Linked DNA regions of Homo sapiens. The protein of the gene in region 1 interacts with the protein of each later gene in a pairwise test. Each region holds a gene or a part of one and is shown on either strand. Other genes may lie near its edges.

Evidence for each region.
Region 2: the proteins of CHAT (region 1) and NDEL1 interact in binary tests that used the Homo sapiens proteins (3 or more experiments, as listed by UniProt).
Region 3: the proteins of CHAT (region 1) and CHST8 interact in binary tests that used the Homo sapiens proteins (3 or more experiments, as listed by UniProt).
Region 4: the proteins of CHAT (region 1) and ID1 interact in binary tests that used the Homo sapiens proteins (3 or more experiments, as listed by UniProt).

The regions. Positions count from the first base shown.
Region 1 is NC_000010.11:49,645,009-49,652,036, reverse strand, and holds part of CHAT (choline O-acetyltransferase), read right to left. Parts: intron 5,533-7,028; coding exon 5,363-5,532; intron 3,531-5,362; coding exon 3,430-3,530; intron 2,530-3,429; coding exon 2,401-2,529; intron 154-2,400; coding exon 31-153; intron 1-30. UniProt on the Homo sapiens protein: Catalyzes the reversible synthesis of acetylcholine (ACh) from acetyl CoA and choline at cholinergic synapses.
Region 2 is NC_000017.11:8,445,860-8,452,887, reverse strand, and holds part of NDEL1 (nuclear distribution protein nudE-like 1), read right to left. Parts: coding exon 7,024-7,028; intron 6,135-7,023; coding exon 5,986-6,134; intron 4,339-5,985; coding exon 4,202-4,338; intron 2,109-4,201; coding exon 1,935-2,108; intron 1-1,934. UniProt on the Homo sapiens protein: Required for organization of the cellular microtubule array and microtubule anchoring at the centrosome. May regulate microtubule organization at least in part by targeting the microtubule severing protein KATNA1 to the centrosome.
Region 3 is NC_000019.10:33,764,940-33,771,967, reverse strand, and holds part of CHST8 (carbohydrate sulfotransferase 8), read right to left. Parts: intron 556-7,028; coding exon 518-555; intron 12-517; coding exon 1-11. UniProt on the Homo sapiens protein: Catalyzes the transfer of sulfate to position 4 of non-reducing N-acetylgalactosamine (GalNAc) residues in both N-glycans and O-glycans.
Region 4 is NC_000020.11:31,601,019-31,607,016, reverse strand, and holds ID1 (DNA-binding protein inhibitor ID-1), read right to left. Parts: upstream 1,729-5,998; 5' UTR 1,630-1,728; coding exon 1,204-1,629; coding exon of another isoform or gene 1,180-1,203; exon of another isoform or gene 965-1,179; coding exon 923-964; 3' UTR 507-922; downstream 1-506. UniProt on the Homo sapiens protein: Transcriptional regulator (lacking a basic DNA binding domain) which negatively regulates the basic helix-loop-helix (bHLH) transcription factors by forming heterodimers and inhibiting their DNA binding and transcriptional activity.

The DNA.
Region 1 (7,028 bases):
AGGGTACAGACTCACTCCACCTTCACTCACCTGTAGAAGGCCAGCTGGAGGGCCACCTGGATGAAGGCATCAGGGCTGCATTTCTGCTTCTTAATGAATGTTTTCCCATAGTTGTCAAACTTATAGACAATGAAGTCAAGGTTCTTTACTATTCTGAGGAAGAAAAAGAAAAGATGTTTTTATTGCATGCAAAACAGTATGCATGCATCTGGGGTTTCCCCGGGCTTCTAGAGCCTGGTCTGTGTCCTAGCGTTCTGGAAGGTGCGGACGTAGTCCCTGCCCTTCAGGAGTGCACTGAGGTGTCAGAGACATGCCTTGACCTATGAAAGTGTCAGAAGACAAACCAGGCCAGGACTACTATGACCCAAGGTGAGCTCAGCTGAGTGGGGTGTCGGCCCTGCTCTGGAGAGTGGGTGGGGAGGTGGGCCTGGCTGTGTTAGTGAGTCAGGGATTAACTGTGACACAGGTGACATGCCCGGGATTTTGTAATTCACTGTCGGAGTAACAGGAACATTTTCCAAGTCTGCACTGAGACTCTGGAGCACTGGCTGACCCTCATATTGAACAATCTCCTCCTCCATCAGGAGTCTGGGGTCTGAGCTGACTGCCCACTGGAGCAGTGTCTGGCAAGGTCTATGTGCCTCCCCACTGGAGAGCGCATAGCCTGAGTGGGAACCCCGAGCCCACACGCACACCTTCTGTCGGGACTCCATGCTCCCTGCCTGCCTCTCCTTGAAGTATTCCTCCTGCTCACAGCAGCTCAGCTCTCGGTGGGGCCAGGTGCTAGGAACACAGGGGGACTTGGAGGAGACCCAGTTCCCATGAGTACTCGCTCCTTAGACCTACCTGTTGACAGACGTCTGGGACAGACTGAGCTCACTATCACCACAGCCACCTGGAAATCTCTCCCCCAAGCTGTGCCCACTCGGGCCTCACCCACTTGTATGGGCCCCTCAGGACCCCCAGGAAGAAGCCTCCTTCTTCCCCATCCATGGGCCTTTCCTGGCTCTCCTCAGCCTCTGGAGGGTGGAGCTGGGGGCCTTGGGGAATGTGGGGTCTGCTCAGGTCCCTGGAAGTGAGTGGACTCCTTTACCCACTGAGGACTCAGCAGCCCACCAGCTCACTGCCTTGGCCCCTGACTTAGCTCCTGAACAACCCTGCAAAGCTGAGATGTGAGCACCACTTTATAGAACACCTGAGGCCCCTCCATGCCCACTGAAGCCAGGCAACCTCTCCAGCAGCTCCCAGTGGATGGGTCCTTCCCGCTCTTCAGCTTCCCAGCCTGGCCACACTCTGTCCTGCTCACATGTGCCCTTCCCACAGCCTCCTCAGGGGCGTCCCCATACCCCCTGCACAGAACCCTCCAGTGGCAGGGCAGGCTCTAGGCCCATAACAGGACAGTGACACTCATCACAGTGTGGCCCAACTTCCTTTTTGTGGCCCCACTCTGGCCATTCTCTCACTTGCTGGTCTCCAAACCAGCCTTCATCATTATGAACTTGTACAAGCTTGAAGAAGCTGCCTTTCTGCCTCTTCCCCATCTGCTTGCACCATGAACTCCTATCCATCCTTCAAGGCCCGTCTCTACAAGGCCCTCCCTCACAGTCCTGACAGAGTTCAGCTTCTATATTTTTGTGGGTTCAGGTCAGCATGGCTGTTTCTGCTTTTGGCATTAATCTTACTGTATCACATGTTTTGGCCTGGGAGTCTACTTATTCCACTCAAATATGGAGTGCAGGTCCCATGGTACTTAACTTTCTGTGTTCTCAGAGCCTTACCACGGGCCGGGTGCACACCAGAGCTCTGCACATGTTTGATGAATGAATGAGCAAACCAGTGAATGAATGCATTCGTGCTTGCTTACTGAATGGGAGAATCAACAGCTACAGTGCAGACGTGGTTGCCAGGATGTGGCTGCCACCACTGCTTGCTGCTGCCCCAGGCCCTCCTGCCTGGGTCCCGTTAGGGCCTGAACGGCCCCCTCCCCTTGGGGAAAAAGGCCCCTTTGTCAAGTTGCACTGTACATTCAAGCAAATTTAAATAGCTTGAATTCAAATGACCTATTCAAACCAGTTGTTTATTACTCCCCCTAAAGCAGGGGATGATTTCCCGGCCTTGACTCTGCTCAGTCAGGTGAAACTGAAAAAAAAAAAAAAAAAAAAAAAAAAAATAGCCCTGCGTTTGCATTTTAGAGAAATGATGGATACTTCAGCAAGGTTATTTCCCCAGAGTTGTATCTCTCCTTTAATTTGACTACATGAGGGATGGGGACGAGGTGGAGCCCAAGGAGAGGCAGAGGAGCTGGGGTCTTTGGAAACTTCCAGGGAGCCTTGGGAGCTAGTAGGCAAGGGCGGGGTGGTCCCTAGGGGACCCCTCAAAGGAGACTTCGGTTATCCTTACCGTTGAAGTTTTTCTGCCGAGGAGGCTAAGTGGCCTTGAATTTCCGGGGAGCATTTCCACCGCAGCCTCCGGGGGGCGGGGAGCTCGCTGACGGAGTCTGCTCGGATCAGCTTCCTGCTGCTCTGCGTCCTGCGGGCACAGAGGCAACCTCCTGAGGCTCTGCGGCCAGACAGCTGTGGGAGGCATCTCTTCTTTGCTCTGTGCAATCATCTTAGCTGTCAGTGTTTGCGGCCATGGAGTTTCAGGGGGTACGAGCTGCCCCTGAACCACCGTGCAGATGAATAAACTGAGGCTCAGAGAGGCCACCAAAATCATTAAGTGGCAGGGCCAGGGCTCCATCCAGTTCCGCCTGACTCCAAAACCCATTATTTCTTTTCATTGTTTTCCTATTAGACCATGTTACACCCTTACAGAAGACTTGGAGAGAAATTTAAGAGCAAGCTGTGTTGTTCTCTTCTACAAGGTTTGTGCCTACTAGGCTTGGTTTAGGTTTCAGTAACCCTGAGTTTCATGGAAGAAATTGAAGACTTGGATGCAGGGAGAAGATTCTAGGAGAGAATGGGTAAAATTGGGAATAGAGGAAGGAATACCATGTGTTTAGGGCACAGAGGAACCCTGCTGGGGAGCTAAGGAGGGACCCAGCCTTGGGATTTGGAAGCAGTGAGACTCAGAGAACTCCCCCTGTGCTGGGGCAGCCGTGGGCCTGGCCCTGACTCAGGATAAGCAATAGGTATCGATGTAGGCTTCCCCTCTCTCAAGGCAGAGGTTCCTGAGAATTCCTTGCCATGCTTCTCCCTGACTGCCGTAAATCTGCTGCCTCCTATCCATGGCCCGTGAAGCACATGATGTCGCATACAAAGCTGGGTTTCAAATTCATCGTGTGTGTGTGTGTGTGTGTGTGTGTGTGTGTATAGTACACATTTTTTTCAAATTCATCTTTTGTTAAGACGCTTTCCAGACTGACACAGCCCCCAGCGACCACCCACATTTTTTTGGGCCCAGCATGGCAGCCCTGGGATCCAGACTCACACGTGCTTGAGCAGATGCTCAGTGCACTGCACCAGGACGATGCCATCGAATGGGGAGTGTTCGCACACCACACCGCAGGTGCCGTCTCGGCCCACCACAAACTGCAACAGGAAAGAGGGAGTGGGCGATCATGGGAGAGTCAGCATTGCAAGGCAGCCCCTTGGCCCCAGGTTAGGCCCCTGGCTTCTCAGGGCACCTCTTCTCCAGGGACACCAGAGCACATTATTTCCTGAAGAGAACACTGCATGTGATTGCAGTGGCCTGAGAATATGAGAATCCAAGACTACTCTGCACTCACGACCTCTTTCCCGTAAAAGCTGTGGGCAGTGAAGGTGGAGCCCCAAGTTCCCGGACTGAGCAGTCCAGGGATTTCTGAGGAGTTCATCCTCAGGACGAGTCTGCCCAGCTGCCCTTGGGGCCTGGGTGAGGCCCTTCAGCCCTGTTTCCTGTCATAGCTCACATCGGGGTCTCCTCCCAATCTCTTGCCTTGTGTGCCAGAGGCTGGATCTTTACTCCCATTCTACAAAGAAACTCACTTCCCACAGAGCTTCTCCCCAAACTCACCCTTTGCAGGCCCTCCCCTCCCGCCCCCAGTGTCCCCTGCCTTGCTATCCTGAGACCAGTTCTCCATCATCTTGAATTCAGGTCCATGAAGCCCTGCTGGCTTCTCTGGTTCGCCTGATAATCTGCCCTGCTGATGAAAAGAACCTGGAGGTCAGCATAGACTAACCCATGAGAGGTGGTGGAGAGGGCTGCACCCACCCCCCACATTAGTACTTATCTGTGCCTGTCACTAAAAGGAAGGAAGGAAGGAAGGAAGGAAGGAAGGAAGGAAGGAAGGAAGGAAGGAAGGAAGGAAGGAAGGAAAGCGGTGTCTTTTGAAAACTGCTACCAAGGCTGAGTTCCAGATTCTGTGCATGTATTATATCGGTTCACCCCCACAGCTCCATGAAAGATGATAAGCCATTAGCACCACTGTAGAGGCTAAAACAGCTGGCCCAGCAGCTGGAGAGCGCATCAGAAATAACAGAATCAATATGCAAACCAATAAAAAGGAAAACCTGCAGAATGTAGGGACAGAGAGAAAGGAAAACGAGGTGTTGTCTAGATATGCTTATCAATGTGAGCTTTGCTAACCCAAAGTAGAGAGATGTTTTGTTTTTGCCTGCTGTTTTATACTACATGGCATATCATATAAAAGTGTAGTGACTTTAAAATAAACAAGACTAGGTTCAGGATTGGCATGTTGGGGGAATAAAAGGAGGATGGCAGAATGGGAATGAATGGTTTGACCTTGACTTCATCCCGTCTGCATGGGTATTTTTCTCTAGGTCAAAGTAAATTTCTTGCTTCTAGGCTGATGTCATGTAAATGAACATATATGAATTATTTTATCTCATCTTACAGTCTTTCTTCCATGGAGATGCTGGGCTGTTCTACTTCTCAGGGATTGAGGGAGGTATGTTGAAATCGCCAGGCCACGGGGGTGGACATCCAAAAAGCTGACAGCTCTGGGCATCAGAAATTATTATTTCAGCATGCATTAAGGATTTGTTCAGTGGGGCTGTTATACTCTCCTACTCCTGGCACACCCCCACCTCACAGGTGTGATGGGTGATGGGAAATGGGCCCCAGGTCTGGCCCAGACCTTCCTGGCACAGGCTGCAGGAAGGTTAGGGAGTTTGAGTTGGGTTCGGCCACTGGCTCCTGAGAAGAGTTCTGGCTGGTCCAGAGATTGACATCAACAGCACATCTCAGACCCCTCCAGCTCTCCTGACCCCTCAGACCCAGCCTCTTAGGCAGCAGAAACCAGTGAGTGCGCCTGCCAGACACAAGCACGTGCGGGCCTGGGCACCAGGCTGTGCCCGCTTGCCTACTCACTCTCTCGCTGGGGGCATGGCTGTGCTCTTGCAGGGCCACCTGGACGGCTTACCTGCAGGGACTTGTCGTACCAGCGATTGGCCCCGTTCTTGCTGTAGCCTCCGCCGTGAAGGAGCTGGAGTGCCCTGTGGGTGTCGCTGAGCTCCACGCCTCCTGGCGCGTCCAGGCATACAAGGCAGATGCAGCGCTCAATCATGTCCAGCGAGTCCCGGTTGGTGGAGTCTGCAGGGGAGGCAGGCACAGCCCTAGCACCTGTCCCGCTCCAGGCCAGTCTTCCCTCCTCAGAGCCCCACACAGGGCAGGGCAGCCCTGTCTTCTGGGATCACAACAAGACCCAGGTCTTGAGCCAGCCCTGACCCCCCACCTTGCCCCACTGTGGGTGGGCAGTGAAGTCAGCCAGAGTGTCCTGAGCCTCTGTCCTACCCCAGGATCCCAGCTCATTCGCACGGTCCCTGCAGGAGCCCTGCTCTCCAGCTGTGACCAGCTCTCCTCCAGATGTGTGGGCTATTGGTCATGCATGCCAAGATGAAGCGGGATGCTTAGACCCTCATGTCAGCCCACATCAGTGGAAGGGCCCTTAATCCCCCACCCAACAGCACCCTCCACTGGGGCTCCTGTGAGCCACATCTGTGTGTAGGCATGCTTGTTTGTGCTGAACTATGACTTTCAGACATCTAAACTGCAATTTCAAAATTGTTGTTGCAATTTCAAAATTAGGCAATTTCACATTAAAACCTGAAGGAAGTGTATTGGTCACCTCCCTGCCCCCAAGCTGTTGGTTCAGAGGCAGAGCTGCAGGCAGAAGGGCCAGGCTGCCTTGAACCCACATCTGGATGAGCTTGTAGGGGCAGTTTTGGACTCATGGATCCAAAGGAGCTCCAAGCCTGGCCCACAGCTGGCTTTTGTGTTAGCCTCTACCAATTCCCAGGCTCCTCTAGACATTCTTCTAGAGTAAGCAGGTCTCAAAAGGGAATCCCCCTCCCTGGTGGCACTGGAAGAGTACAGACAAGGACGGCTCTTCAGGAGCGGGAGTCAGGCACAGAGCACGTGATTTCACCAAGGACACATGCGTTCCTCCCAGAGAGCACCAGAAGCTGCCCTCCCTGGCAGCTTCCTCCACAGGGCACAGGGAGGTTCACCAAGCCCACCCGGCAGGACCTGTTGGGGGCCAGGCCTGCTCCCGCTGCGTGTTCCCATTTCTTCCAAACAGGAGTCTATTGTGCTGACGATGTTCTCTCCACTGCTCAGTACTGGGTGTGGGGGTACACAGCCTGCCTCTTGGTTTAAAGTTCACCAAAAGTTAAAAAGTCCACCCAAAGTTTAACATTTTGGTTTAAAATTCCAAGGAGTCACTTCAAGACCCAATGGTGAGGGCTGCGTATCACCAGGAGAGCCTGACCTTGGGGGCTGGATGCTGGGACAGGATGAGGCACCCAGGGCAGGGGTGAGAGTGCTCTGTGTGTGGGAAGATGGGTGCATGGCATTTGCAGGGAAAGGTTCATTACATGGTAGAGACTCCTAGTTGCACACCACATGTCCTTTCTTTCCTTGCTTGTAGAACCCCTGGTTTTTAGCTTGGTACATGGATAACAAACTAGAGCTATACTTCCCAGCCTCCCTTACAGCTAGGGGTAACCAGGTGTCTAAATTCTATGAGCAAGATCTCAAAAAACTACACCACAGCTTCCGGGGAACCTCCTCAAAGATAACTAGCATGT
Region 2 (7,028 bases), on another chromosome or scaffold:
CACACCTGTAATCCCAGCTACTTGGGAGGCCAAGGCAGGAGAATCACTTGAACCCAGGAGGCGGAAGTTGCAATGAGCCAAGATCGCACCATTGCACTCTAGCCTGGGCAAAAAAAGCAAAACTCTGTCAAAAAAAAAAAAAAAAAAGAGAAGAAAAAGAAAAGAAAAGAAAGAAAGGAAGAAAGAAAAAGAAAGAAAGAGAAAGAAAGAAAGAAAGAGAAACAAACATTGTAAAAGGTAAAATACAATTAAAGACAGACCACTTCAGAAAGATCAGCTCTAAGATCTTACCGATTTCTCTGACCACCTGCTGCTGCTCACAACTCTGTGCTTTCTTGTAATGAAATTGCAGTGATCTAGTACACAGCAGCTTTTAGGTTAGCCAGTGAAAATTCATGCTATTGGTTCCAGCCTAAAAACATATCTATTAAGCAAATATTACTGCCATAGGGTTGGCACACCTCATGCCGTGCCACAGCAGGCTCCATGTCCTTTTGACTCCCCAAGTCCCTGAATGAAAACTCTAACGGGCTATTAAAAAAAAATGTGCACCACCTGTGGGTGTCACCGCACCTGAGGCTTTTCACTATTCTGATTCGTCTTCAATTAAAGGATTTTCAGATCTGCATAATTCTAATCAGTAACATAAAAGTAAAACTTTGTTAGTCCTCAGGTGTAATTGTGAAATCTTCAAATATACAAGCAGCTCTTCTGAAAAACTGACCGTGAGGGCTCCTGATGACTGCTAATAATCTATTGCCTGCCCTTTGTCCTCAGCAGTAAACCTAGCGCAATTAGTAACACCTTACAACCATACAGCACCTTCACATACCTTATCTGATATCATCTCGTAACAAGGCAAAGACAAGTTGAATTACCTACTCAAGGGTTACTGAGCACTTGAAATGTGGTTAATGTGACAAAGAAACTGAATTTTATATTTTATTTCATTTTAATATAAATTTAAATAGCCACATGGGCTGGTGACTATTGAGTAGCACAGACAGAGAGAGCTCACTGTACTAGTTGCCCACATAGCATTCTAAAAGATAAAACCCTATATTTTAAAAAGGGTGGGATGACAGCTTCAATATAGGGTGGAAAAAAAAAGCAAGGGGGGATGAGAGTAGCAGAAATATGAACTACGAGCTGCAAAATCTAAACAAATCTCAATTGAGAGCTTTAAGATTCCATTTTAAGGTTCTATCTAGTGGCTACTAGGTGGTTTTTCTGCTTATCCGGATTTTAAAAAAACACACTGGTTCATGGCAATGTGAGTATTCTGTATGTGCCAATCATCAATTACTCCGAACAATGCTTTTGAAAATGGCAGCTCCTGAAGCATGTAACAGAATGGGCATGTCCATCCAAGCCGGTCTTACATGAGTCTGAAAGATAACTTAATGATTCTCTGTACATTCTATGTAGAAAGGCCTCAGGTCTCCCATGATATGGAAAGTGGCAAAAGGAAGAAATAAAACTGTGTTTAAATATGATCCCCAAATTTGCATGTGACAAAGAGATGTGCACAAACACACACAAGCACACAATAGAAAAAAAAACTCAAAATGTTAATGGTGGGTGCCTGTAAGTGGTAAGATAACATGATTTTTATTTTCTTTTTCTGTGTTTTTAAAATTTTCTACCTAAACATACGGCTGTAATCACAAAATCTATTGCTATCATCAAAAAATAAACTTTCCTTAAAAACCTTTAACTTTTAAAAATCTCATCTTAAATGTAACCATCATTTCACTGTTTCCTATATATTAGTGGCCTAGGAAAACAATTCCTTCTTCTATTTCACATAGCACTAGACTTCACCAACTTTTAAACTAAAATTACTCTTTAAACCTTAGCAACCGCCTTCAGCAACAAACCCCCGTAAGCTGATCATCTAACACATCGCCTCAAAAAGAAAAGACATTACAAACCTTTCGGTGAAGGAAAAGTGTTCTCCGTTCCTTTGCCAACAGGGGTAGCTGGCAAAGAAAGTGATGCTTGGACGGCGGAGTCCATCTTTTCACAGTCTAGAGTTGGAGAGCTAGGAGCCGACTTTCTAGTTACTTCCTGTTGTCTTTCCCGAACTGCTAGTTCTTGCCTTAAATCTGTAAAATATTGCAAACAAGGGCAGGAATACTCACTAGAGGGAGCAAATATATCAAGCAAAGTGACATCTAAAATGTCATAAAGGTCTTCTTCCTAAATTACTATTTCTCAAAAATGAATTTCCTATTTAAGTATAACTTTCATTTCTAGGGGAATAAAAATGGCAAAACTACTGTCTAAATGATCTTTTAGAATTTAAAAATGCTATAACCTGAGAGAAGTTACTTATGCTTATATGCAAAAAGAAACAGTGCAGAGTCCACAGTACAATTCACACAAAAGTAAATATTCTTCACCAACTTATTTGCTTTTATTTTCAAATGATGTAGTTTTGGGGTTATTGCAAAATCAACTAAGTGCATTTTTGTAATTTTAAATGGGCTGGCATTAACTATTATCACTATGAAATATTTACTTTTAGAAAAGAAGTATTCAGAACGGTTTAAATTTTTCTCATGCTTTCAAATATTGAGCGTTTTTTTTTTTTTTTGAGACGGAGTCTCACTCTGTCGCCCAGGCTAGAGTGCAGTGACGCAATCTCGGCTCACTGCAACCTCCACCTCCTGGGTTCAAGCGATTCTCCTGCCTCAGCCTCCCAAGTAGCTGGGATTACAGGTGCCCGCCACCACACCCAGCTAATTTTTTTTTTTGAATTTTTAGTAGAGATGGGGTTTCACCATGTTGGTCAGGCTGGTCTCGAACTCCTAACCTCAAATGATCCACCCGCCTCAGCCTCCCAAAGTGCTAGAATTACAGGCGTGAGCCGCCACACCCAGCCAATGTCGAGTTTTTAACCCAAAATTAATGTTATCTTTTCCAATTATGCAATTTAACTTACAGAATATTTGCTTGTGTTAAAAAAGGAACAAAGTCATCCCCCTTTTGGGTATGTATCCAAAAGAATTCAAAACAGGATCTCAAAGAGATATTTGGACACCCATGTTCACAGCGGTATCATTCGCAATAGCAAGAGATGGGAGCAACTCGATGTCCATCCACAGATGAACAGATAAAGAAAATGAATACATACAATGGAGTATCATTCAGCCTTAAAAAAGAAGGAAATTTTGTCACATACTACACATGGATAAACCTTGAGGACATTATGCTAAATGCAATAAACCAGTCACAAATACTGTATAATCTCCCTTATATGAGGTATCTAAAGTAGCTGAACTCATAGAAAATAGAACTGTGGTTGCCAGGGGCTGAAGGGAAGGGAAAATGGGTAGTCACTATTCAATAGGTATAGTTTCAGTTTTGCAAGATGAAAAAGTTCTAAAAATTTGTTTACACAACAATTTGACTATACTTAACACTACTGGACTGTACACTTTAAAATGATTAAGAAGCCAGGCACAGTGGCTCACACCCATAATCCCAACATTTTGGGAGACAGAACCAGAAGGACCATTTAAGGCCAAGGGTTCAAAACCAGCCTGGCCAACATACTGAGACTGTCTCCACAAAAAAAATGTTTTCTTAATTAGCTGGATGGGGCCAGGCGCGGTGGCTCACGTCTGTAATCCCAGCATTTTGGGAGGCCAAGGCGGCCGGATCACGAGGTCAGGAGTTCGAGATCAGCCTGGCCAATATGGTGAAATCCCGTCTCTACTAAAAATACAAAAATCAGCTGGGTGTGGTGGCGGGCGCCTGTAATCCCAGCTACTCGAGAGGCTGAGGCAGGAGAATTGTTTGAACCCAGGAGGCGGAATTTGCAGTGAGCTGAGATTGTGCCATTGCACTCCAGCCTGGGTGAAAGTACGAGACTTCGTCTCCAAAAAAAGTTGACTCTAAGCTTCTTCTGGCATAGGGACAGTAAGGTAAGGGAGGATAAATACAGTTGTCCCTCAGTATACATGGGGATTGGTTCCAGGACCCCCACCTACACCAAAATTGGCGCATACTGAAGTCCCACAGTCAGCCCGTATATATGAAAAGTCAGCCCTCCATATACAGGGTTTTGAATGCCGTGAATACTGTATTTTCAATCCACATTTGGTTGAAAAAAAATCAGAGTATAAGTGGGCCCACACAATTCAAACCCATGTTGTTCAAGGGTCAACTGTATTCTTTAAGTTATAAATTTTACCTCTTGCTTCATCCTTTAACCTCTGTACAGAGACCAACAAAGATTCCTTTTCATCAAGTTCACTTTCTAAAAATGCATTTCGTTCAATGGCCTGGTTTAGCCTTTGTTCAAAGTCTTCCAGTGAAACTATTGTTGCCCTAAAAAGAAAAATTAGAGTACATGAATTAAATAAATAACATGTGCAAACAGATAGTACAAAAGGAAACTGTCAGTTTATCTCGTGACATTTCCTGACCTAGCCAGCCTGGCCCCAATCAAAGAAGATGATCTTGCCCCTTCCTGACCACTGCTGGCACGTAGTGTCTCTATCAGTTGGGCAATATATACAATACATTCTTTTAAATTCCCATCTATTCCTTAATGTTCCCTACAGAAAGGCTATTTGTTACACTATTTATATCTCCACTGTGTTTTGAACACAATACAATCAAGTTTACACATTTTCAGAAAGAAAACTTTTCAAAACTTGTAATATATGTAAGAGTTTGTTTAAAACATTAAGTCCCAAGTCAGGGAACCTAAGGCCAATTCACACTGACTTCCTAGAACTAAATCAAAAGGAAAACCGGAACTTTCCACACCTAAGTAAGAAAAGGACCAGAAGCTATTCCCTTTGCTTTCTGCAACCACTCAGACATTTGCATAGGGTGTCACTTTGTAACTTCACTTCAGCCTCTGATTGGTTCCCCCACTGCCCCCCCCCCGCCCACCTCCCCGCAACCAATCTGGCTGCTGCCTCCTCTATGCCCTGGAGCAGCAGCTTGCCCACTTTTTTTTACTAGGGTATTAACATAGTGAATGTACATATCTGTCACCCCCAAGGGTAGTGACCAGACTAGCTCCGCATCTGTAAGTTTAGCATCATGTCAGTCACTTAAGACTCACTGGATAAATATTAAGGAAGGAAATACCAGGAAACAATTATAAAGTAATAGGAATTAAGTTTGGAATGGTTAAGAAACAACTAATTACACATGCATAAAAGTTTGGCAACAGTGATAGCAAGCCACTGCACGTTGTTCAGAAATTTGAACTGAAATCAACATTTTAAGAAAATTCATCAGTCAGTATTAAAAGAGAATAAAAAGGAACAGAAATATAAAGATATATCAGCTAGAGGATAACTACAGAATCCAGGTATAAGATATGAGGACCTACAGGAAGTATGGAAGTGTTAAGAGCACAGAGGGAAGATGGGGGAATGCATGAGACAGTTTAAAAAATAAATAAATACACAAAACCTAGGCTGGGTGCAGTGGCTCATGCCTATAATCCCAGCACTTTGGGAGGCCAAGGTGGGCAGATCACTTGATGGCAGGAATTCAAGACCAGCCTGGCCAACATGGCAAAACCCCGTCTCTACTAAAAATACAAAAATTAGCTGGGTGTGGTGGCACATGCCTATAATCCCAGCTACTTGGAAGGCTGAGGCACAAGAATCGCTTGAATCTGGGAGGCAGAGGTTGCAGTGAGCCGAGATCATGCCACTGCACTCCAGACTGGGCGACAATGTGAGACCCTGTCTCAAAAAACAAAACAAAACCAATAGGATCAACCACAGTATATGAAAGAAGGAAAAAAGAAAAATTGAAAGAGAAAGCTTTGAAGGGCGTTATCTGGGAGATGAGGATTTGGGGTTCCCTTCCGTCCGATGAGTTACAGGTGACATGAAACACCAACAGGAAATGTTCTGGGACTAAGATCTAGGGGAAGAGCCTAATAAAGATTTTAATCACTAATTACCAAGGTGGTTTTTTTCTAACAAAATGCAGTCATTCGTTTACCTTTTGGCTCGCTCCAGGTCGTCGTTGGCCTGCTCCAGCTCTCTCACATACTTATGCAACTGCTCCTTAATGGCCCGAGTCTGACTTAAATCATCTTCTAACACTGAGACCTGCTTATAGCTCTGTGCATATTGATGCTCTAGCTTCTCCTGAGGGCATCAGTATAGGAAAGTACATGTCATTAATATACAGTTCTCTTTACTAAAGAGGTAACTCAAGTTAAAAGGGTGGGGGGGAACCCAAGGAATTTACCCACACTCTTGTAACAATTACTTTAAAAACAACTAAATGACACATTCATTCTAAGTGCCTAAACTCATGTTAAATTTTGTCAACCATTCTCCTCTCAGAAAGAAACCCAATAACAATCTCTCTGAAAAGAACTAATATAAAAAATCCTTGCCTCAAAATCCGCAAACTTGTTAAGGAAACCTCTGGATTTTCAGGCTAAATGCGGCCCAGGGTAAGCACAGAGTTCACATTCCCTACCTTTCACCTGCCCATCCAACCTTCCCAGAACCCACCCACTCCCCAGACACTAAATACCCTCAAGCATGTGGCTACAGTAGATGGTAAAGGGCAGAGAAAGGGGTGAATCCTTTTGCTCCTGAAAATTCCTTTTTAGAAGGGAAATTTTTAACCCTAACTAAACTCCAAAACTGAAAGGGCTATGAACAATAATGAAATAAATGCATATTCCCTATCAATATAATTGTAAACATACTGCAGAATGAGGCAACCTATCTGTCAAAACAAATAATCAGGCAGCTTTTGAAAATTATAGGAACTATAATATAATATAGCTAGGAACATTATAGCTAGAAAAGTGACAACTACAAAGTTTCTAAGTGAACTCCTAAACTCTAAACCACCTTTTCCCCTGGTTCCGTGAAAGAAAACATTTTATTCAAAAATTCACTTTAAGCGTTTTTTTCAAACTATTTTTTGTCGCCAGCTGCTCTTAAGCACCTGAAAAACATATTTCTCATTTTAATAAAACTCAACACATTAGACCCCAGCGTCTACTGCTGCAATTACCTTTA
Region 3 (7,028 bases), on another chromosome or scaffold:
GGTGGGAGGTCCTGGGGCAAGAAGAGAAGTGGTTATCTGAGTGGAAAGGACAGCTGGGCACTGAGGGCCACACAGGTCAGGCTCTCACCACGGCTGGGGTTCCTGTCCCTCTCAGGTGAGGGAGACAGGCTGACTCTGTAGGTGAGACCCCTCCGGTCTGAGCCCTGGCCCGGCACCCAAAGGCCTCCCTCCCGCTGAGGTGTAAGTGTCATTTCGGCCACAAGATGGCGCGGTCCTCCCAGGAACCTGGCCTGGGAGAGGGTGGCGGGAATAGGTGGCCTGCAGGCGGGCTCAGATTTACGGCCTCTATTAGCACCGTGCAAAGAAGCCTTCTAACAAGGAAGGGAAAATTCATGGGTCCAGAGCCCTGGGCTTTGTTCCCAAGGCTCCTGGGAAAGGCTGGACACATTTTTCTTTCCAAGAATGGATCCAATGTGAGCTCCTAATTTTCTTCCCAGCCCTCCCCAGTTTCCCAAGGGCTGTGTGCACTGAGATTTATCTGACTCTCAGAACTTACGTGGTGGGGCTGCCTTGGCCTGATGTTGAACTTTATTCCTGAAAAGCAAACAGAGGAGAGGACAGTATTAGCGGATCTGCCACATGGCTCCCAGGGAACTGCTTATGGGCTGCTGGCTGTGGACATCCAGGCTGGAGGGATCTTGGGGTAGGCTCTAGGGAAAGGCAGCTTAGGGCATGGCTCAGTGCTGGAGCCCCTCCATCCCCTACCCATGCAGAAAATGGGGACGCAGCAAACATGTGGTCCCACTGGCTCGCAGCTGAGGCTCTCTTCTCTGCATCACGCCTGCCTCCTGATGTGATCTACAAGGTCTGGAAAGGCACCCTGCCCAGGTGTGCCCATACCTGCCCTGTGGAGCAGCCAGGACTCTCACAGGCCACCTCCTCCTGCACCCCACCATGTCATTAAGTCACAGGGAAAGGACCCTTCAGAAAGCTCGATCCACTCTCTCTCCACACCCCATCAGCCATGCCCCAGTTCTGGCCACTGTGGATTCTCTATGCTTGGAATATGATTCACACCCACACCTTTGCACACACCAGGCCTAGGAATGGAACGTGCTTCTTCTCCTCTTGCTACAGGAAGTTCCCTAACCTGGGCATTTGCTTTGTGATCTTGGCCTTCTCAGCTGGCTCTGGAGTTCTGGGGTGAGCTAAGCATATCTTGCTCGCCCTGGTCTCCCCCAAAGCCCTAAGCAGCGCCCAGGTAGAGGGTAATTGTCCAGCGTTAACTTACTGATGACCTCAGGAAGACACAGAGAGACCAGTGCATCAATGGCCATGCTCTGGAACGCCCCCTCTGCCTACCAAGGAGGCCCATGCCTGGGCTGGGCTCACCTAAGAAGCAAGCTCTGGTGAGGTGAACCTTTGGCCAGAGCAGAATATTCTGTGTCATACCTCATTTGGTCTGCTTTGGGGGAAAGTCGCAGGAGGACAAGGAGATTCCCTTTGGGGGGAATCTATTTAGAAGCTGGAGCCTCCTTCCCCAGTCCCTACCTGGCCACCGAGGAATCAGGGGCTCTTTCTGCTCCAGTACCATGTGGGTGGACATTTTCGTCCTGAGGCTCTGCCAAAAGCCATGGTCACCATCAGAGCCAGCTATCCCTTAAGGAGAGAGCTGGATCTTCTGGCTGGCGCGCCGGGGCACCATGCCCGACCACACCTGAGCAAATCCTGGCTGCTGCCTGCGGGAGGGGGGTTCCAGTGTCCCACCACTTTCCTGGCTGTCTCCACGTCCTGGGCAGAGGTCCAGTGGCAGGAGCCCAGCTGGTGAAGGGATCTCCAGGTCTTCCCTGAGCCAGAGATTCTGTGGATTTCTCCATGAGGTCCAGTTTTACAGACTCAGCCACTGCCATGCCCCAGACAATGTAAGGCTGAGGCCGTGCCCGCACGTCTCCTTCAGTCATTAGCAGGCCAGGAAGGAGATGCAAGGTCAGCCCTGGAATGGACAGCCTGAATTCCCTGAGCTTGCCCGAACCTTCCTCAAGTCCCAAGAGAGGCAGAAATGCAGGCAGAACTGGGACACATTTCATCTTTCTTCCGCTTGTCCCTTTGGGCTGGGAACAAGGGTATGCTCTCCCCTGGGCAAAGGGCAGAGTGTCCCCATCTTCCTGGGCACTCCCAAGCTTATGTGCACATGCGTGCATGTGGGGGATCTTTGAAACAGGCCTTCTAGACTCTTCCCTGGAGACTGAGGGGAAGCTCCAAGTAGACCTGGCTGCACCCTTCAGGGTGTGGGGTGTAAGTAGCAGGTGCCTGGCCTGAGAGAGGAGTCTTTAGAATCAAGCTGCTCATTGCCACCCCCTGCCATGCCCAGAGTCTATTTCCCTCCTTGACAGCCACCCCCTCCTCTTCCCCATCCCATCATTACTGCAGCTGTCCCAGCACGAGCCTCCAGAGCTCCTTTCTCTCCCGCAGCCGATGATGACAGCTCCCTTCACTAGAAGGGACCCGCTGCACCACTTGGTTTTCCTCTACTCTGCCAGATTTCCTTAATTATTTTCTTCTGGTTATGGCAGCTGGCTCTGCTAAACCACCTCTCCTCCTCAGAGTCTCAGATATGGGAAATCACTCTGCTTGTCACTCCTGTCATCTCATCAAGGTGTGACGGTGCTTATATATTCCTTTTCTAAAGCAAATGAGTCATGCCAGATTTGGCCAAGAGTGGGGCTGAGAAGCCACTTCCAAAAGGGATCCTGCCAGTCGGGGGGAAGATGGAAGGCCATGTGCTTGTTGAGGTTGCAGCCCCTGAGGCCATGACCTCCCACTGGCACTGTCCCCACAGCCTCGGAGGGCAGTGGGCTGTGGTCCTGTTCCATTTTACCTGTGAGGACTGGACAGGGGGACACTGTCTCCTGGACCTCTGGACTCTGAGCCTAAGCTTCTGGGGCTGTCCCACTCTAATGCTCGCTGAGCTAGAGCCCTTGGCATTAACTAGAGGAAAAGTTCCTTCTAGACAAAGCCTGGGGCTGGGCGAGTCTCCTGATTTCCTGTTTACATGTGTCCATAAAGCCAACCTGCCTGCAACTTCCTCCTTTGAAAGGAAAAATTGCCTTGTGGAGAGTAAGAGAGATCAGTAACATCTTAAGTAGAGCCTGAGTTTGCCATAAGCTATTCCCAACCCTTAGACTTACGGCAGCTTATCAGGCAAAGATTAGACCTATCCCCACAAGCTCACTTTAACATTTTTAAAAATTTACTGCCGGGCACGGTGGCTCATGCCTGTCATCCCAGCACTTGGGAGGCTGAGATGGGCTGATCACTTGAGTCCGGGAGTTCGAGACTAGCCTGGCCAATATAGTGAAACCCGATCTCTACTAAAAATACAAAAAAATTAGCTGGGTGTGGTGGTGCATGCCTGTTATCCCAGCTACTCAGTAGGCTGAGACATGAAAATTACTTGAACCCAGGAGGCAGAGATTGCAGTGAGCTGAGATCACACCACTGCACTACAGCCTGAGCAACAGAGTGAGACTTTGTCTCAAAAAAATAAAATAAAATAAAGAAAAAGAAAAAAAATTTACATTTATTTTAGAAATAGTTAGAGATGGGGTCTTGCTATGTTGTCCAGGCTGGTCTCAAACACCTGGCCTCAAGAAATCCTCCTGCCTCGGCCTCCCAAAGGGCTGGAATTATAGGTGCGAGCCACCATACCTGGCTACAAGTTCACTTTCGAATAAAGAAGAAACGTAATGAAGGAAATCTAAAGGGACCTCCCCTTTGCCGTGAACCTAGTGTCCCCACTAGGAAGAAAACTGCTCTTCCATGCACCAGTCAGATAAAGGCTGAAGCAAAAACCACTGCTGGCTCTGGGCAAGTGAAAACCAGGAGAAACCTTAGGTATCCTGGGGCAGGGGTCTGCACATCCCCAAGTGGGCTGCACGTCAGGACCCTGGACAGCTCCATCAGCGCTCAGGGAAGTACAGCTAAGGGCTCACGAGGATGAGGAAGGTTTGCCACCAGGGGTCAGTGGTACCAGTGCCGTGGGGGGCACTTATGGGTGGGAAGGAGTTTTGGCCTCAGTATAACCACCTCCAGCCCCTCTCAAGCCCCCAAATAAAACGTACAATCTAGATAACATCAGTGGCCTTGCAGAGCAACTCCAGCCACAACCCACCTCCTCTTCCATCCAACGCCACCAATGCTGCCACGCACCTTCCCTGCCTCCCCACCTCCACCCCTGCGACAGAATCCAAGACCAACCACGCACACCCCACTTTCGGTGTCTTGAGTTACCTCTCTTCTCCTGTCAATATAAGGTTCACAATCTGTAAGGGAGCTCCATCCCCCCGCACAGTAAGAAATAAACAAGCACTTTCTCTTTCTGGACAGATGACATGCGTGGAGTGGCTGGAACACATGCGCTATGATAAGAGCATCGGTGAGAATAAACAAGGCGTGAGTTATGGGCACTGCCAAATGTGTTCCACAGTGTGAACTCTTCATTGGCTGAAGTTCTCAGCGTTTAGCTGAAAAGCCTCCTGATTGAGGAGAGGCAGAGACTGATGAGTGTGTGAGGCCAGTTTCTTAGTCATCAGGCCTGGGTTTGGGGCAGAGTTGGGGAGGAGGCTATACCAGCATGTCCAAGGAGAAGGGTCTCTTGCCCGCTCCTCTCTAGGCTCACAGGAGGAAGACCTGCAGGGTGCCACACAAAAGCCCCAATCCCCACTGCCCAGGAGCCATGGAGGGTGGTAACTGGGGAGCAGCCTTTTGGTCAGGCCCTGTAGACAGGCAGCACTGACAGGTGAGGACAGGACCCAACTGCCTCGAATGAGCCCTTGGCCTCCCCCAGCCCCAGGTGGCTCACTCTTGGGAGAATGACGGCTGCATTGGCTGCTCATGTCCCAGCCCCGAGCCCTGATGGGCGATGATGCTAGTGTCCCGCCACTCCCATCACTGCGACTGTCCTTAAAGAGTCAAATCTGCAGAGGGACAGGCATGGGAGAGAACTGGGGAAGGAGGGCAGGAGCGGCCATGCCAGTCCCAGGTCCCTGTCTGTGGTGGAGTTTGAGTCGTGCTTCTTGGTCTTTTGGGATTTCCTGATGGGGCCGTTTGTGTGGCCGCGTTTCCATGTGCCCGGGGCTTCTGGTGGCTGAGTCTGCTGGCAGGTTGCCCCACACCCATTGGCGCTGTCCACTCCACGTCCACTTCCATTGCCCAACAGGCCAGGGAGCCTCCAGGGCTTTTGGCTGCTTCTCTTGGCTCAGGCTGGCCCGACTGGGGGTGGGGAGTTCCCTGAAGGCAAGGTCCCGACTGCATCTTGGTCCTCAGCACGTGCAGTACCCGGATTCTGAGCTTCGGCTCCACCTGGACTCCTTACAGTGGCATCTGGTGGGATGAACACTGTTGTCCCGGACAGCCCAGGCTGCCGGCCTCTGCCCTGCTGCTTCCATGCCCCCATTAGGAAGAAGCAGCTCCCACACCTAAGGTGCACACAAGAAAGGCCTCCGAGCCCTGGGGCAGCCCCACAGCTGGTCACGCACCTGACCTCACAGTGCAGTGCTGAGCTACAGATGGCCTGCCCCGAGTGCAGGGTGCTGGCAGGAGAGAAGGTGGGCGGGTTGGGGGAGAGAGGCCTGAGGGAAATGCCAGGCTCCACTCCATGGGAAGTATGAAGGGTTCTGAATGGGGGGGTGGCATGCTAGTTAGGGTTATCAGAGAGACAGAGAGCCCACAGGTGATATATATGGAGGCGGGAAAGAGACGGAGAGAAAGAGAGAGGGAAGGGAGAGGTAGAGGTGGAGGAGGGGAGAAGGAGAGAGGGAAGCGAGACAGGGAGAGGAGAGAAGGAGGAAAGGAAGAAGAAGAGAGAGAGAGGAGAGAGCGAGACGGGTTGATTTTAAGAAACTGGCTCATGTGATTCTGGGGGCTGGCAATCTAAAATCTGCCAGCAGGCCGGAGACCCAGGGAAGACCTGGTGCCGCAGCTTGCATGGGAAGGAGGTCCGAGACTCCCTCCTACTTGGGGAACTTCACTCTTTTCTCTTCAGGCCTACAACTAATTGGATGAAGCCCACCCACATTGTGGAAGGTCATTTCCTCTACTCAAAGGCTACACATTTTACAGCAAATCACATCTAAAAAATGCCTTCCTGGCCGGGCGTGGTGGCTCACACCTGTAATCCCAGCACTTTGGAGGCTACGGCAGGTGGATCGCGAGACCACAAGAGATCAAGACCATCCTGGCCAACATGGTGAAACCTCGTCTCTACTAAAACACAAAAATTAGCTGGGCATGGTGGTGTGTGCCTGTAATCCCAGCTACTCGAAAGGCTGAGGCAGGAGAATCGCTTAAACCCAGGAGGTGGAGGTTGCAGTGAGCGGAGATCGCGCCACTACACTCTAACCTGGCAACAGAGTAAGACTCCGTCTCTCTCTCTCTCTCTCTCTCTCTCTCTGACACACACACACACACACACACACACACACACACACACACAAAGACTGGCATTTGTCTAAACCCTGTGGCACCATGGCCTAGGCAAGGTGACGTATATAATTAACCATCACGGGAGGTGCTTTGGTTTGTTCCTGCAGCTGCTGTAACAAAGTATCCCAAACTGGGAGGCTTAAAATGACAAAAATGTGTTCTCTCACAGTTCCGAAGGCTAGATGTCTGAAATGAAGGTGCCAGCAGGGTCACACTCCCTCCACTGCCTCTTGGGTACGGGCTGATGCTTCCTCGACTCTTCCAGCTTTCGACAGCCCAGGCGTTCCTTGGCTTGCAACAACAGAAGATCAATCTCTGCTTCGTCTTCACACAGCTGTTGCACACGTGTGTCTCTTCTCCTCTTCTTATAAGGACACCAGTCATATTAAAATAGGGCCCACTCAACCAACCCAAATGCCCATCAATCAACGAGTGGATAAAGAAACTCTGATATATATATATATATATATGATGGAATAGTACTTAGCCATAAAAAGGAATGAATTAATGGCATTCGCAGCCACCTGGGTGAGACTGGAGACTATTTTTCTAAGTGAAATAACTCAGGAATGGAAAACCAAACA
Region 4 (5,998 bases), on another chromosome or scaffold:
ACCCAGAGGTAGGCTGTTGGGGGAGGCACCTCCAACTGGGGAATGGGGTGATAGAATCACTGCCTCTCACAAGCTATGGCCCTAAGCAAGTCCCTTTCCACTGGGTCTCACTTTATCCACATCTTGGCAAGGAAGTGGGTGGTCCAGCGGCCAGGTTCTCCAACTTAAATGGCTTGCTCAATACTCCCAATACAGAGGGGGCCCTGGCAGGTTCATCTGCATTTTAACAACCTCCCCAGGTGATCTAGATGGCCCAATGATCACTGTGAGAAACCCCAGAGGTCTGGAGTATTTAGTTTTATAACACTGGGGAGCAGGGAAATGGGCAGGGATGGTGGGGGAAGAATAGACTTTAAAGACACCGGAAACACTCATTCAGGCCGGTAAGAGCAACAATCCAGATGTAGCCCTCCAATTCTCCTCCCAGAACCAGCTGTGAAGAGGGTCAGGGGTCAACCCCCAGCCCAGGCCCCTCCCCTCAACCCAAGAAGTCACTACAACTTTACCACCATCTAAATTATTTGTTTAATAACAAAAAAACAGCCCCACAGAACTATTGTAAAACAATATTTTCAGTCGGTGATCATTGTAATATACAATACAAAGCAATTTCCTCAGAAATCTGAGAAGCACCAAACGTGACCATTTTTTAAAATGTCTGCTTTTCAAAAAATAGAAACACACGAGTGGAATCCCACCCCCTAAAGTCTCTGGTGACTAGTAGGTGTGCAGAGAGGAGCGCCCTCTCCTCGCCAGTGCCTCAGCCTCAGCCCCAGGCTGGATGCAGTTAAGGGCGCAGTGGCCGCCGATCGGTCTTGTTCTCCCTCAGATCCGGCGAGGCGCGTTGGGGGAGACCCACAGAGCACGTAATTCCTCTTGCCCCCTGGATGGCTGGGGTCCGCCGGTCCCTGGGGGAGGCGCTTCAGCGACACAAGATGCGATCGTCCGCAGGAACGCATGCCGCCTGTGAAAACGAGAAGAAATGAGACCGGCGGGTTGGAAGGGACGCCGCTCCGAGCGCAGCGAACGCCCCCTTCCCCAGGAAGCACGACGGGGGAGCGCTTTTTCCAGGCTCCTTAGGCACCCCCGCATAGCCAGGTACCCGCAAGGATGGGACGGAAGTGGTGCAAGCGCCCACGCCCTCTCTGGCCTCCGTTTCCCCGTCGGTATAAGGATGATCTAGTGGTCGGATCTGGATCTCACCTCGGCCGTCAGGGCGCTGATCTCGCCGTTGAGGGTGCTGAGCGGAGCCCGGACCGGCAGCCCTCGGCCCCCGGGGGTTCCAACTTCGGATTCCGAGTTCAGCTCCAACTGAAGGTCCCTGATGTAGTCGATGACGTGCTGGAGAATCTCCACCTTGCTCACCTTGCGGTTCTGGGGCAGGGTGGGCACCAGCTCCTTGAGGCGTGAGTAACAGCCGTTCATGTCGTAGAGCAGCACGTTTACCTGCTGCTCGTCCAGCAGGGCAGGCAGGCGCGCCCCGGCGCCCCCGGCGCAGCGCGAGATGGCCACGCTCTGCTCAGACAGACAGCGCACCACCTCGCCCGCACCGCTCGCTGTCTTGCCGGCCTTCAGCGCGCAGCTGGGGCCCGCGGCGGCGGTGGCGGTGCTGCCACTGGCGACTTTCATGATTCTTGGCGACTGGCTGAAACAGAATGGGCAAAGCGAAAAAAATGAGGTGGAAGCCCGAAGCAGATACGGAAAATGGAACAGTTAAGAACGTGGAATGAGAGTGCGGAGCCACAGCTTGTCTTTTATAAACACGCCACGGCCCCCGGAGGGGCGGGCTCAGAACGTTCAAAAGCAGCCAATGGGCGGCATGGGGGCGTGACCCGCGCTCCTAGGTCCAGCCTCCTGCTCGTCTAGTGCCTGCTCGCAGTGTGGAAAGACGACCCGGGTTTCAGAACAGCAAGGGTGGGTCGGTGGCAGGGCACCGGGCAGGGCAGCGGGTAGAGGCGAGGGCCGCACTGGGCTCCTCTGGAAGGAGGCAAGGAAGCTAAGCAGGCATTGCCTTATAATGAAAAGACCTCAGGAATCAGTTTTTCCCATATTCACTTTCTCACTTCTCCAGCTCCATTTCACAGATGAGAGAAATTGAGGCCCGAACGGAGAAGCGGCTGGCTCTGGATAGCCCAGAGAGCCTGGGTTTCCGGACCCTCTTGGAAGATGCTTCTCGGACCCTGATCTACAAATATCAGGACCGAAATTTAAAGCGGGCGCTCCTTTACATCTGCTCCCCTGGGCTTTCTCAATTCCTAAATAATGTTGCTGTTCGTGTTCCTGAGACCCGGAGGGCCTACCCAGATCCCTCCCGGGTGGGAGCAATTAATTCGGGAAAGTCTAGTAAGTTTGGGGCTGGGTGGCTGGGAAGTGAACTAGATAGAGCGCAGTGGAGTGAGGCTGCATTCGATTCCACCTTGAATTTGCAGCTCCTTGCAAAAATTTCCTGAACCTGCAACAGTTCGTGATTTTTTAATGTTTTTTCCCATTTTTGGCTGCTTTTTAAATTTTCTTCTCAAAGACCTCAGAGCAGGGTCTCCCTCCCACGGCGCGGCAGCTGCGGAGCTACAGTCTCCCCCCTCCCTTCCCGGGCCGGTCTGTGTCAGCGTCTGAACCAGCGGCTCAGACCGTTAGACGCCAGGCCTGTGACGTCACCCATTCATAAAACCCGGACGGACTGTCAGGCTGGCGCCGCGCGGGCGGTCGCCATGGAGACGACAAACTGGTCTAGCTAGTTCCCGTGCTCCCCCCAGCCCGTCACCTGCAGACCCCGGGCGGGAGGCCTGGGAATGCGTTTCTTGCGGGCGCGGTCGCTGAGCAAGGGTCACCTTACCTCCCCGCCCCACACCTGCGAGTCTCCCAACCCAGACCCACAGCTTGGGCCGCTTGGGGTTTCTTCACCGCTCCCCCCACCTCTCCGCCCCAGCTACCCCTTCCAGCGTGGGGAAAAAGGCCTGAGTTCTCTTTCCAGCTCTGCAGCTGAGTGAATTCAGGCGGGTCGCATGCCCTCTCTGAGCCCTAATATTTAATATCTGCTTGGTGTTTAAATAATAATCACAAACGTGACCATTATTAATTTCTTACTTTGTACAGCGGGCACTGTATGAAGAGTTTGTCTTGATCATCTTTTTTCATTTATTTCTTATTTTAAAAAATGAAGGGCTGCGCGGTGGCTCACGCCTGTAATCCCAACAATTTGGAAGGCCGAGGCGGGTGGATTGCCTGAGGTCAGGAGTTCGAGACCAGCCTGACCAATATGGTGAAACCCCATCTCTACTAAAAATACAAAAATTAGCCGGGCATGGTAGCGTTCGCCTGTAATCCCAGCTACTCGGGAGGCTGAGACAGGAGAATTGCTTGAACCTGGGAGGCGGAGGTTGCAGTGAGCCGAGATCGCACCACTGCACTCAAGCCTGGCGACAGAGTGAGACTCGTCTCAAAAAAAAAAAAAAAAAAAAGGATACAGGGGGCCGGGCGCAGTGGCTCACGCCTGTAATCCCAGCACTTTGGGAGGCCGTGGTGGGCAGATCACGAGGTCAGGAGTTCGAGACCAGCCTGACCAACATGGTGAAATCCCGTCTCTACTAAAAATGAAAAATTAGCCAGGTGTGGTGGCGCGCACCTGTAATACCCCAGCTACTCAGGAGGCTGAGGCAGGAGACTCGCTGGAACCCAGGAGGCGGAGGTTGTAGTGAGCCGAGATTATGCCACTGCACTCCAGCCTGGGCGACAGAGTGGGACTCTGTTTCAAAATAAAATAATAATGATACAGGGTCTTACTCTGTCACCCGGCTTGATCAACTTCTGTAGTCTTTTTCACAACTCTAAAGAAAGGAGCTCTTTGGTTTCTTTATACAAAGGAAACTGAGGCTCCACACGACGCCTAAGTCATAACCATAGTTGTGTTATTATAAGGAGGGTACAGTGTTGTAATGCAACCGCTTCCTGCTGAGAGCAGGCAGTCTGACTGCAGAGTCCTGGACATGCCACAGGTGGGGAAACCGAAGCTCAGATTAGTCACCCAAAGCCACACAACATTAGCAGGGGTAAAAATCTGTGCTCACCAGTGGAGGGTGATATTATGGTCCCTCCCTGCTCCGCTCCACCGCACTACCCCGCAGCAATTAATTCACTGAGTTATCAGCAGGTTCCGTTTTCCCACAGAAGTTCGGGGGATGAGGGAAAAGTAAAGGAGCCTTCTGCCTCCACATCAGGAAACCAGGAAAACCAAACCAATCAGTGAGACCAGCTTCAAAAGAGAGAGACATCATCAATTAATTAGCCAGACTCCTCATCCCCTTACCACACACACCAAAACTCTCTAAACTCCCTACGCCTTGTTTAGCAATCCTAAATTAATGATGGGAGGGAATAGTTTGCTGCTCAAAAGAATTGCCAAATAATTGGAAGAACAACAGTCAACCAGAGGAAATTAGAGTATTAATTCATCACCAAGTGTTTATTTTTGTTTATTTTTGAGGCAGAGTCTCGCTCTGTTGCCCAGACTGGAGTGCAGTGGCGCGATCTCAGCTCACTGCAACCACCACCTCCTGAGTTCAAGTCATTCTCCTGCCTCAGGCTGGGATTACAGGCACCCACCACCACGCCCATCTAATTTTTGTATTTTTAGTGGAGACGGGGTTTTGCCATGTTGCCTAGGGTGGTCTCAAACTCCTGACCTCAGGTGATCCGCCCGCCTTGGCCTCCCAAAGTGCTGGGATTACAGGCATGAGCCACCGTGCCTGGCCATCACCAACTATTTATTTATTTTTTTTTGAGATAGAGTCTCAGACTGTCACCCAGGCTGGAGTGCAATAGCACAGTCTTGGTTCACTGCAACCTCCGCCTCCTGGGTTCAAGCGATTCTTCTGCCTCAGCCTCCCAAGTAGCTGGGATTACAGGTGCCCGCCACCACACCAGGCTAAATTTTTTGTCTTTTTAGTAGAGACGGGGTTTCACTATGTTGGCCAGGCTGGTCTCAAACTCCTGACCTTGTGATCTCTCCACCTCAGACTCCCAAAGTACTGGGATTACAGGCGTGAGCCACAGTGCCTGGCCTTCAACTGTGAATTAATTGATCCAGCAATTCTGTTTACTGCAATGAATTCCAGAGAAACCAGCTTGGCCAACATAGCAAAACCCAGTCTCTACTAAAAATACAAAAATTAGCCAGGTGTGGTGGTGGGCGCCTGTAGTCCCAAGTACCTGGGAGGCTGAGGCAGGAGAATCATTTGAACCCAGGAGGTGGAGGTTGCAGAGAGCCGAGACCAAGCCACTGCACTCCAGCCTGGGCGACAGAGTGAGATTCTGATTCAAAAAAATAAAAATAAGAGAGAAAATTATGCTGTAGAAATTAATTCAGGGCCAGGCGCAGTGGCTCACGCCTGTAATCCCAGCAGTTTGTAAGGCCAAGCCAGGTGGATAACCTGAGGTCAGGAGTTCGAGATCAATCTGGCCAACATGGTGAAACCTCATCTCTACTAAAAATAGAAAAATTAGCAGGGCGTGGTGGTGCACACCTGTAATCCCAGCTACTTGGGAGGCTAAGGCAAGAGAATTTCATGAACCCAAGAAGTGGAGATTGCAGTGAGCCAAGATGCCACCACGGCATTCCAGCCTGGGTGACAAAGCAAGACCCTGTCTCAAAATATAAATACATAAAATAAATAAAATGACATAGTATTTGTATAAAACCTATGCATATCCTTCTATCCACTTTTTTTTTTTTTTGAGACGGAATCTCGCTCTGTCACCCAGGCTAGAGTGCAATGGCACGATCTCCGCTCACTGCAACCTCTACCTCCCAGATTCAAGCAATTCTCCTGCCTCAGCCTCGCGAGTAGCTGGGATTACAGGTGCCCACCACCACACCTGGCTAATTTTTGTATTTTTAGTAGAGATGGGATTTCGCCACATTAGCCAGGCTGGTCTCGAACTCCTGACCTCAGGTTATCCGCCCTTTTCCACTTCCCAAAAATGCTACACTTGCAGGCGTGAG